3 linked regions of the Homo sapiens genome follow. The protein of the gene in region 3 interacts with the protein of the main gene of each other region in a pairwise test. Each region holds a gene or a part of one and is shown on either strand. Other genes may lie near its edges.

Region 1 (3,655 bases), on a different chromosome or scaffold from region 3:
AGGAATTCTGTCTCATGACCCACTCCCTCCTCTGGTGTCCACTGCATCCAGCCCAACTTCCACCACAGCTCCACTCGGGTGATGCTTGTTATTTATTTCTCACTCCCCCAGGAGATTGTGAGCCCCTTGGGGACGGACACAGTTGCTGGCTTCAAATCCCCACGCAGGCTCTCAACACATAGTAGGTGCTCAATCAGCAGCCTTTGGTGAATACATGAGCCAGCGGCTGGACTCTCCTTGAAGCCTACATTCTGGAGGGCAGGGTCGATTCTGCGGTGAGGCCAGAGCTATTTCCACCTCTCATTCAAACACACCCTACTGAGTCTTCCCAGAGAGAGGTCTGGAAACCTCTTGACCCAGAGCCTTGGCCGTCTCCCTTCCCGTTGAGAGGCGGCTTACCCCTGCCCACTCCTTTCTATTAGAGACAGAAACAGGGGCCAGCAGCCTGGCTCCAGGCAGAGGGACTTGGCCAGGGTTCCCAGCTGGCACGCTGGGTAGCCTACGTGCCATGGCTGCCTGCCTGGCCACCCTGCCAAGGGGATGGAAGTGGTGGCCCCACCAGCCTCCGGGAGGCCAGCAGGCAGCAAGACAGAGGGGGAAGCAGAGGGGATGTTTGGGCACAAGGCAGGCTCTGGTGTGCCAGTTGGGAGGCCAAAGCCCTGGGGTGTCTGGCACACTGAAGGGCTCAGTGCCTTCCAAACCCAGCTTCCTGGATAGCACTGTGGGCTTCTTTGTGTATCTATGAGAAGCAAGGCCCCAGGCCCCAGATGCCTGGGCCTTGGAGCATAGGTAGAAGGCTGGAGAGACAATTAATGAGAACACAAAACTCAGCCCAGGTCAGGCTCTGGGCCAGCCAGGACCAAGTGTGGCTCTGGGGGCTTGGATGGGCCCCAAGAGGCAGGTGAACCGTCCACTGTTCTGTCCAGGGACCTCAGGCATGGAGCACACAGGGTCGCCGGAGGATGTGCTGGGGCTGGGGGCAAAACTAAACCTACTGCCTGAAGGCAAATCACCCCACTTCTTCTCTCTGAGCCTCAGTTTCCCCACATCCAAGAGGGAAGCCTAGATACTCTTTTTTTTTTTTGATGGAGTCTCACTCTGTCACCCAGGCTGGAGTGCAGTGGCACGATCTCAGCTCACTGCAACCTCCACCTCCTGGGTTCAAGTGATTCTCCTGCCTCAGCCTCCCAAGTAGCTGGGACTACAGGCTCCTGCCACCATGCCCGGCTAATTTTGTATTTTTAATAGAGGCGGGGTTTCACTGTGTTAGCCATGATGGTCTTGATCTCCTGACCTCGTGATTTGCCCGCCTCGGCCTCCCAAAGTGTTGGGATTACAGGCGTGAGCCACTGCACCCGGCCTATCATTTTTATTTTTTATTTTACTTATTTATTTATTTATTTTGAGACGGAGTTTCACTCTGTCGCCCAGGCTGGAGTGCAGTGGTGCAATCTTGGCTCACTGCAAGCTCCGCCTCCCGGGTACACGCCATTCTCCTGCCTCAGCCTCCCGAGTAGCTAGGACTACAGGCGCCCGCCACCACGCCTGGCTAATTTTTTGTATTTTTAGTAGAGACGGGGTTTCACCGTGTTAGGCAGGATGGTCTCGATCTCCTGACCTCGTGATCCGCCTGTTTCGGCCTCCCAAAGTGCTAGGATTACAGGCGTGAGCCACCATGCCTGCCCTCTTGTTTTTATTTTTTTGAGACGGAGTCTTGCTTTGTTGCCCAGGCTGGAGTGCAGTGGCACGGTCTCAGCTCACTGTAACCTCCACCTCCCAGGTTCAAGCGATTCTCCTGCCTCAGCCTCCCAAGTAGATGGGATTACAGGCGCCTGTCACCACACCTGGCTAATTTTTTGTATTTTTTTTTAGTAGAGATGGGGTTTCACCGTATTGGCTAGGCTGCTCTCGAACTCCTGACCTCATGATCCGCCCACCTTGGCCTCCCAAAGTGCTGGGATTACAGGCGTCAGCCACCGCGCCTGGCCAAGACTGGACACTCTCTAACCAATAAAAGGCTCTAGGTCCAAATATCCCCAGAAACTTACATCTCTGAGGGGCTGTCATGGTCAGAACATTGGAATTGAGCTAGCACTTTATATGCAGCATCTCATTAATCCTGATGCTGCCCTTGGAAGTAGTGATAATTACTGTCCCACTTTTCAGATGAGGAACTGAGGCTTATAAGGGTTAAATCACTTACCCAGGAGTCCTCAGCTGGTAAACAGCAGAGCCAGGACTTGAACCAGCGGCTTCGGCTGCTGAGCCCAAAGCACCAGGAGCATCCTGCTGTGCTGAGCCCTGCATGGGCCTCACCCTCGCCTCTCAGCTGGGCCCTGCCTGGGCCTCACCCTCGCCTCTCAGCTGGGCCCTGCCTGGGCCATCACCCTCACCTCTCAGCTGGGCCAGGGGCTTGTCCACAAGGTCAATCAGAGAGTTTAGGGTGAGAAGGGACCTGGAAGACTGGCCACCTAGAGCAGTCCCCAACTCATCACCCTGCGATGGCCTGGCCACATCCCGTCTCAAGAGTTGGTCACCTCTTGTGATGGGAAGCAAGCAGTCTCTTGGGACAGTCATTCCATCTTTGGGCAGCTCCAATGGCTGCAAAGTGCTTCCCCATATAGAGCTGAAACCTGCCTCCCTGGGATTTTCGCCTATCAGCCCTCCTTCCTCCCTTGGCTCCAGAAAGGGCTACTCCCTCTCATACACTTCAGCCCTTCAAATATTTGAAGACACCATCAGTCATGTTCCCCCCATCCCCAGGCCCTTGTTTCCATAGTAATCCTCATAGGAGGAGGTTCCAAGTCTCCCTACCCTCCAGGCTGTGTCCTTTCCTGGTACCCCTTGGTCTCAGTGCCAAGAGCCACCTCTGCTAGGTACCGGAGGCCTCTGGAACAGAATGTTCCCGGGTACCAGGGCAGCCCCGACTCTGCCGGCCGACTCCCTGGCTTGGCTGTGGGCCCCAGATCCCAGGGGGGTGGAGAAGCGAGAAGGAATGACATGCCACCTGGGGTGGCTGGCAGAGATCAGACTGTGGCTACAGGTCTGGGTTGGGGCATCTCTGCCAAATGACTTGATGCCTGACCACTTCAGAGACATCGGGCTTGGCTACCCAAACCACATTTTGGCTCAGCCAGGCCAGGTATTCCGGCTCCTGGGGCTCCTCATTCCTGGAGAGGACCTTTGCCCATCTCTTCTCCCCACTATACTTTTGGTGCCCTCACTTCCCTGGGACCCATTCTCTGGCATGGGGAGAAGCTGCCATGTACCTTGGCAAGTGGGCCTGCCTGGTCACTCTTCCCTCCCAACGCATCCAGAGTTTGTCCAGCTAGGAGCCTGGACCACAAAGTCTGTTCTTCTGAATCCCCTCCCAGAGACAGGGCCTGGCCTGCCTGTTTCCTCCCCACCTCCCCATATCCTGGACGGCCCCTTATTTCCTCAATTCCCCACGGCGTCTCCTGAAAGGGCATGAGGCATCTGGCAGTGGGTGGTGGCAGACGTGGCACAAGCTGACTCACAGCAGAGATGGCATGGGGTGGTCCTCCCAGGGGTGGCAACAAAGGGTGATGGGCAGGCCTTATGTGATAAGAAGGGAAGGAGACCAAGAGAGGAGGAGGACTCGCTAGGAAGGTTGCTGGGTGGCTTGGGTGCAGGG
Region 2 (3,655 bases), on a different chromosome or scaffold from region 3:
CCCACAAGCTCTCCAGCCTCATCATCCTCATGCCCCACCACGTGGAGCCCCTCGAGGCCTTAAAAAGCTGGTAACCAAAGAGCAGCTGAAGATCTGGATGGGGAAGAAGCAGAAGCCTGTCGCCATCTCCTTGCCCAAGCGGGTGGTGGAAGTTCCCATGACCTGCAGAAACTCCTGGCTAGGCTTGGCCTGACTGAGGCCATTGACAAGAACAAGGCAAACTTGTCACGCATGCCACACAAGAAGGACCTGTACCTGACCAGCGTGTTCCACGCCACCGCCTTTGAGTTGGACACAGACGGCAACTCCTTTGACCAGGACATCTATGGGAGCAAGGAGCTGCGCAGCCCCAAGCTGTTCTACTCCGACCACCCCTTCATCTTCCTGGTGTGGGACACCCAGAGCGGCTCCCTGCTGTTCACTGGGCACCTGGTCCGGCCTAAGGTTGACAAGATGCAAGACGAGTTTTAGGGCCTCAGGGTGCACACAGGATGGCAGGAGGCAGCCAAAGGCTTCTGAGACACATGGGTGCTACTGGGATTCGGGGGAGGTGAGGTACCAGCTTGGATACTCCATGGGTGGGGGTGGACAAACAAACCAGGGTTCCCGTGTGCTTGAACGGCCCTTCCCAGCTAGAATTTACTCCACTTGGACGTGGGCCCCAGATACCATGATGCTGAGCCCAGAAACTCCACATCCTGTGGTACCTGGGCCATAATCATCCTGCCTGCCCTCAAAGTCCCAGATCAAGCCTGCCTCAATCAGTGTTCATATTTATAGCCAAGTACCTTCTCACCTGTGAGACCAAATGGAGCTAGGGGGGTCAGCCAGCCCTCTTCTCCTGACACTAAACCACCTCAGCCACCTCCCCAGCTCTATCCCAGTCTCTCCCAACTACAAAACTAGGTGCTGCAGCCCCTGGGACCAGGCATCCCCAGAATGACCTGGCCCCATTGAGGCAGATCGAGAAAGAGCTCACAGGACAGGCTTCTGGGCAGACTCTGGTCAAGAATGGCGTCATGGGGATGAACTTTTTGTTTCTTTTTTAGTTCTTCAAAGATGGGGAGGGAAGGGGGAACATAAGCCTTTGTTACTATCAAACCAAGAACTTATTTATACAGTTTTTCTTTTCAATAAAATGTTCCAACAAAAAAAAAAAAAAAAGAAAAAGAAAAGAAATAGGCTATAACCAGCCAGGCAGGGTGGCTCGTGCCTGTAATCCCAGCACTTTGGGAAGCAGAGGCAAGCGGATCACCTGAGATCAGGGGTTCGAGACCAGCCTGGCCAACATGGCGAAACCCCATCTCTACTAAAAATACAAAAATTAGCTGGGCATGGTGGCGGGCACCTGTAATCCCAGCTACTCGGGAGGCCGAGGCAGGAGAATCTCTTGAACCCAGGAGGCGGAGGTTGCAGTGAGCCAAGATTGCACCACTGCACTTCAGCCTGGGTGACAAGAATCAAACTCCTTCTCAAAAAAAAAAAAAAAAAAAAAAAGGAAAAAAAGAAAAAGGCTATAACCTACAAATAGCTACAGATCTCCCTTGGGAAGGAGGGGAGAGGGGAGGACCTAAACTAATTTTTCTCTTTCCACAAATTTAAGTATGTTTGAATTCAGGTTGCCAAAATGTTACTGAAATGACCTTTATTTTACCTGTACCCCAGGATTTTTGCTCTAGATCTCTTTAGACAGGCTTACCAGGATAATGACCCTTCTCCATGTACTTAGCTATATCTGCATTGTTCAAATGTGTGCTTTTATTTTTATTCACTGTTTTCTTTGTAGTTACGTATTTTATTGTAAGACCTCCCTCCATCCTTCTTAGAAATAGATTAACATAATTATTGACATGTCACTAGATTCAGAAGGTAACTAACACTAAAGCACTGGTATAACACATCAGAGACATCCAATAAACATAGGCCCTTAAACTACCACTGCCACCAAACACATTCTTATTCTGTAGGGAGGGAGATGGAATTGAACAGGGAGCAAAATACCTACATGGTTTATTTTTTCTATTTCAAGATGTTAAATAAGATTTTTATTTCAAATATCTGTCAGTAGACTACCAAAGTGTTTGCGCAGTAGTAACTAGTATAGCAGATTACTAGATTAGGAGGCAAAAAAAAACCGAGGACTCAGTCAGTCTCTGCTAAGAACCAGGTGTGATACATGGTCAAATTATTTAACATCTATGAGTCTCTGCTTCTTCAAGTTTAAAATTGAAATAATGTATACAGGCATTGACAGTAAAATTAGATATGTTAAAGTACTCTCTACAAGTGTACTGATTACGCATTTGCAGGAGACAGGTTCTGTAACGCACCCACTAAGTGTCTGGAACAAAACAGGCACAGTGATCTACCGATAGCATTAAAAAAAAAAAAAAAGCTATACATACATACATACTTCTTCTTTTTTTTTTTTTTTTTTTTAGAGAAAGCGTCTCACTCTGTCGCCCAGGCTGGAGTACAGTGGTGCAATCACGGCTCACTGTAGTCACAAACTCCTGGGCTCAACCAATCCTCCTGCTTCAGTCTCCCAAGTAGCTGGGACTACAGGTGCATGCCACCAAACCTGACTAATTTTTTTATTTTTTGTAGAGATGAGGTCTCCCTATGTTGCCCAGGCTGGTCTGGAACTCCTGGGCTCAAGCGATCCTCTTGCCTCAGCCCCCAAAGTGTTGGGATTACAGGCATGAGCCACTGTGCCTGTCCTACATTATATTTTTGTAAGATTTTTTTAAAAGGAGTCCTACAGCTAGCCAGGTCAACAGAGATAATCTAATCTGTAGCTGATCTAGCCTATAATATTTGGTCCATGAAGGATTATCTTCATATTTTGCAGTCTGGCTTGCAAAGTGTTTAAATTTTTTTTTAATTTGTTGTACTGTTTAAAAAATTAGGAGCAATTAAAAATACCCAGTTCCTGCTTTTCCTGAAAATTAAAAGATGTAGTTATATCGGGCCTGCAATTAGATAAGGAAGTAGTAGACCAAAACAGAGTAGTGGCTGTCCCCTTTAGAAGGGCATATACTCTTCTAATACACCCCATGGTCCTGCCTGCTCCTAGTCCCTTTATAGCAACCAACTTTATTCATTTACATTAAGAAACCCAGTACCCAGTGGTAGTCACTCCCAATTTCCCCCCAACCCATCTAGCCCTAGACAAACACTAATAATGATCACTTTTTTTTTTAAGAGATGAGGTCTCAATGTTGCCCAGGCTGGTCTCAAACTCCTGAGTTCAAGTAATCCTCCTGCCTTGGCCTCCTAAAGTGCTAGGACAGGCATGAGCCACTGCACCCAGCCTAATAATAATCACTTTTAAAGAAGTTGCTAACAAAGTCACTGGGCCCGCTGGACTATTAGAAACTGATACAAGGCCAGGCACTGTGGCTCATGCCTATAATCACAGCACTTGGGGAGGCCAAGGTGGTTGGATCCCTTAAGCCCAGGAGTTTGAGACCAGCCTGGACGACATGGTGAAACTCCATCTCTACAAAAAATATAAAAATTGGCTGGGTGTGGTGATGTATGCCTTTAGTCACAGCTACTTGGGAGGCTGATATTGCGGGGTACTGCTTGAGCCTGGGAGGCGGAGGTTGCAGTGAGCCAAGATTGCGCCACTGCACTCCAGCCTGGGCAACAG
Region 3 (2,416 bases):
GAAAAAAAAATGAAAAAAGAATTTGGAGAATATCCTGGCATGAAAACTTTTTTGAATAATACGTAGAATTTTGACAAGGTTCATACAGTGCATACAGTGTGACCTTTTCTGAGGTGGGCAGGGAGGGTTGCTACGTTGTGTTGATTTAAAATTTCAAGGAGGAACAAAAACATTCTAGCCAAGGAGAATTGCATTGTTATTTTTTTTTCTACTAATTTAAACGTGCATTTTTCACAGTTACACATTTAAGTTTTGCTACCAAAAATGGCCATTTTTCTAGACAGATAACATTTTCCTAAAGTGGAAGAGAGATCCACTGTTCTAAAAAAAAAAAAAAAAAAAAACACTAAATTGTGCCTTCTCCCTTAAATTATAAGAAGAGTAATAGTAAAAACTTGTTTAAACTATATTTTCTTTTTTTCTAATCCCTCTCAGTTCTCCTTAGATCTGCCTCCTACAAATGATCATGTTGTTTGCATCTGCCTGATTGAGTTCCCTTGGTCAAACCTCTCCCTATCACTATCAGAAGTTGTTCACTAAATGTATTTTCCTATTTCTTTCATGTTGATTGACTTTATAAGTCACCTTGGTAAACATAACATTTGGCTACCTTCTCATGCTTTATAAATGAATTTGATGAATGGCAGTTTTTATATTTTAACCCTTTAAAAAGTTTGTCAAGGAAACAACTCAGAGCTAAGAACAAAATCTAACTTGGAATCAGTTTCTTCCTTTGGCTGCTGAAGCAGCAGCAAGTCACGTAACCTCATTTAGTTTTTTGATTTACAAAATGTGGATAATAACCTACCTCACAGATGTGTGTGAGCAACTGTTTGAAAGCCCTTGTTTAAATACAGGGTTTATATCCCCACATTCAATGTAAATTCCTTTTTTTAAAAAAAATAAGTATCTTTGATACTGATAGGATGAGTATCTTGATTTTTAGGTAAGATCACAGTTTCACAAATTGTGGTGTTGTTAGGTGACATTTAATATTTCTTGAGACCTCAAGTATTCAAATATCAAACTTGTCCTGTGTTGTAACAAATATTCAGAATCTCTTAAAATGTTGGCTGAAGCTGCCTTAATGTACCAAAATACAGCTCTCAAGACTGTTCACAAATATCTGTGGTTGTACAATGTTTTGAACATTTAATGTAAAGTTGTTGTAGAACTGTGAACTCTAAGGATAGTATCTTTATTGTTTTAGGAAGAATGGTTGTGTTCTTTGTCATGTATGCTTAAATATACAGTGGATTTTGAATGCAACAAATAAAACTGAAAACAGCCATTTGGTTGTGTCATGACAATCATAATATAGGATATAATATTTACTTTTTTTCAAAAACATCCTGCATTCATTCATTCTTAGCATACCTTTGAAAAAGAAAAAAAAATCCATAGGTTGATACATTGACCCATTGAAGTACTTCATTACGTATTTATTGAAAATTTTTTTTAATTGTTGAAATTGGGACCACTTTTTATAATTGGTTTCAAGAAAAAAAAATGAACAGACTTCCAGTGCTTTTCTGTTCAAATAAACTCCGATTCAAATTTCAGTTTTGTTTGTTATATACTTTTTGTGAGTGTTAAATGATATGGGAAGGATTTGTCTTTCATTAACCATATGGAAAAGATGTCTTCCTGAATTACATAGCATTTCATAGTTACAGATTCTTCCTAATTAATGTTTGCACCATATGAAACTCATAGGTAACAAACACAAAGGAGAAAAGCAGCCTGTCTGATTGCTTATAAGCTTTTTTCACAAAATCAAATTAAAAGTCTCTGATTCATTTGAAAGCTATTTTTGTTTCTGCTCCATCATTATGCTGGTATTCTGCACACCAACTAATAGTTACAGGAAAGTTGTTAGTGGAAAAGATTGCCTATACTCATTGGTGATTTCACACCATCTTTTTTCATTTTTGTCATCTTAGTTGTACATTATAGTTTTTAACTTGAGTTATTGCATTGGTTTTCTACTGTTGCTGTAACAAATTACTACAAACTTAACGACTTAAAATACAAATTATTTTATTGTTCTATATGTTAGAAACCCAGCAGGCTTAGCTGGTTTTTCTGCCTCAAGTCACACAAGCTGAAAACCAAAGCATTGATAGGGCTGGGCTGTGGAGGAGAATCTGTTTCCAGTTGCATTGAGTTGTTGGCAGAATTTCATTCCATGGTGCTGTAGGATTGAGGTCCCTGTTGCCTTTTTGGCTGTTGGCTAGGAATCATTTAAAGCTTCTAGAGGCCATCATCCCTTGGCCCTTGGCTCCCTTCATCTTCAAAACCAGCAACAAGTGGCTTATGGGTTGGATCTCTTCTTCCTTCTCTTCAACTACATGTTTCTGACTTGCTGAGACTGACTTTACTGCCTTCCTTTTCAAATTTTAAGGGCTTATGTGAT

Evidence for each region.
Region 1: the proteins of PRKAA2 (region 3) and STAC2 interact in binary tests that used the Homo sapiens proteins (3 or more experiments, as listed by UniProt).
Region 2: the proteins of PRKAA2 (region 3) and KIF24 interact in binary tests that used the Homo sapiens proteins (3 or more experiments, as listed by UniProt).

The regions. Positions count from the first base shown.
Region 1 is NC_000017.11:39,219,411-39,223,065, forward strand, and holds part of STAC2 (SH3 and cysteine-rich domain-containing protein 2), read right to left. Parts: intron 1-3,655. UniProt on the Homo sapiens protein: Plays a redundant role in promoting the expression of calcium channel CACNA1S at the cell membrane, and thereby contributes to increased channel activity. Slows down the inactivation rate of the calcium channel CACNA1C.
Region 2 is NC_000009.12:34,319,185-34,322,839, forward strand, and holds part of KIF24 (kinesin-like protein KIF24), read right to left. Parts: intron 440-3,655; exon of another isoform or gene 324-439; coding exon of another isoform or gene 256-323; intron 1-255. UniProt on the Homo sapiens protein: Microtubule-dependent motor protein that acts as a negative regulator of ciliogenesis by mediating recruitment of CCP110 to mother centriole in cycling cells, leading to restrict nucleation of cilia at centrioles.
Region 3 is NC_000001.11:56,713,526-56,715,941, forward strand, and holds the end of PRKAA2 (5'-AMP-activated protein kinase catalytic subunit alpha-2), read left to right. Parts: 3' UTR 1-1,810; downstream 1,811-2,416. UniProt on the Homo sapiens protein: Catalytic subunit of AMP-activated protein kinase (AMPK), an energy sensor protein kinase that plays a key role in regulating cellular energy metabolism.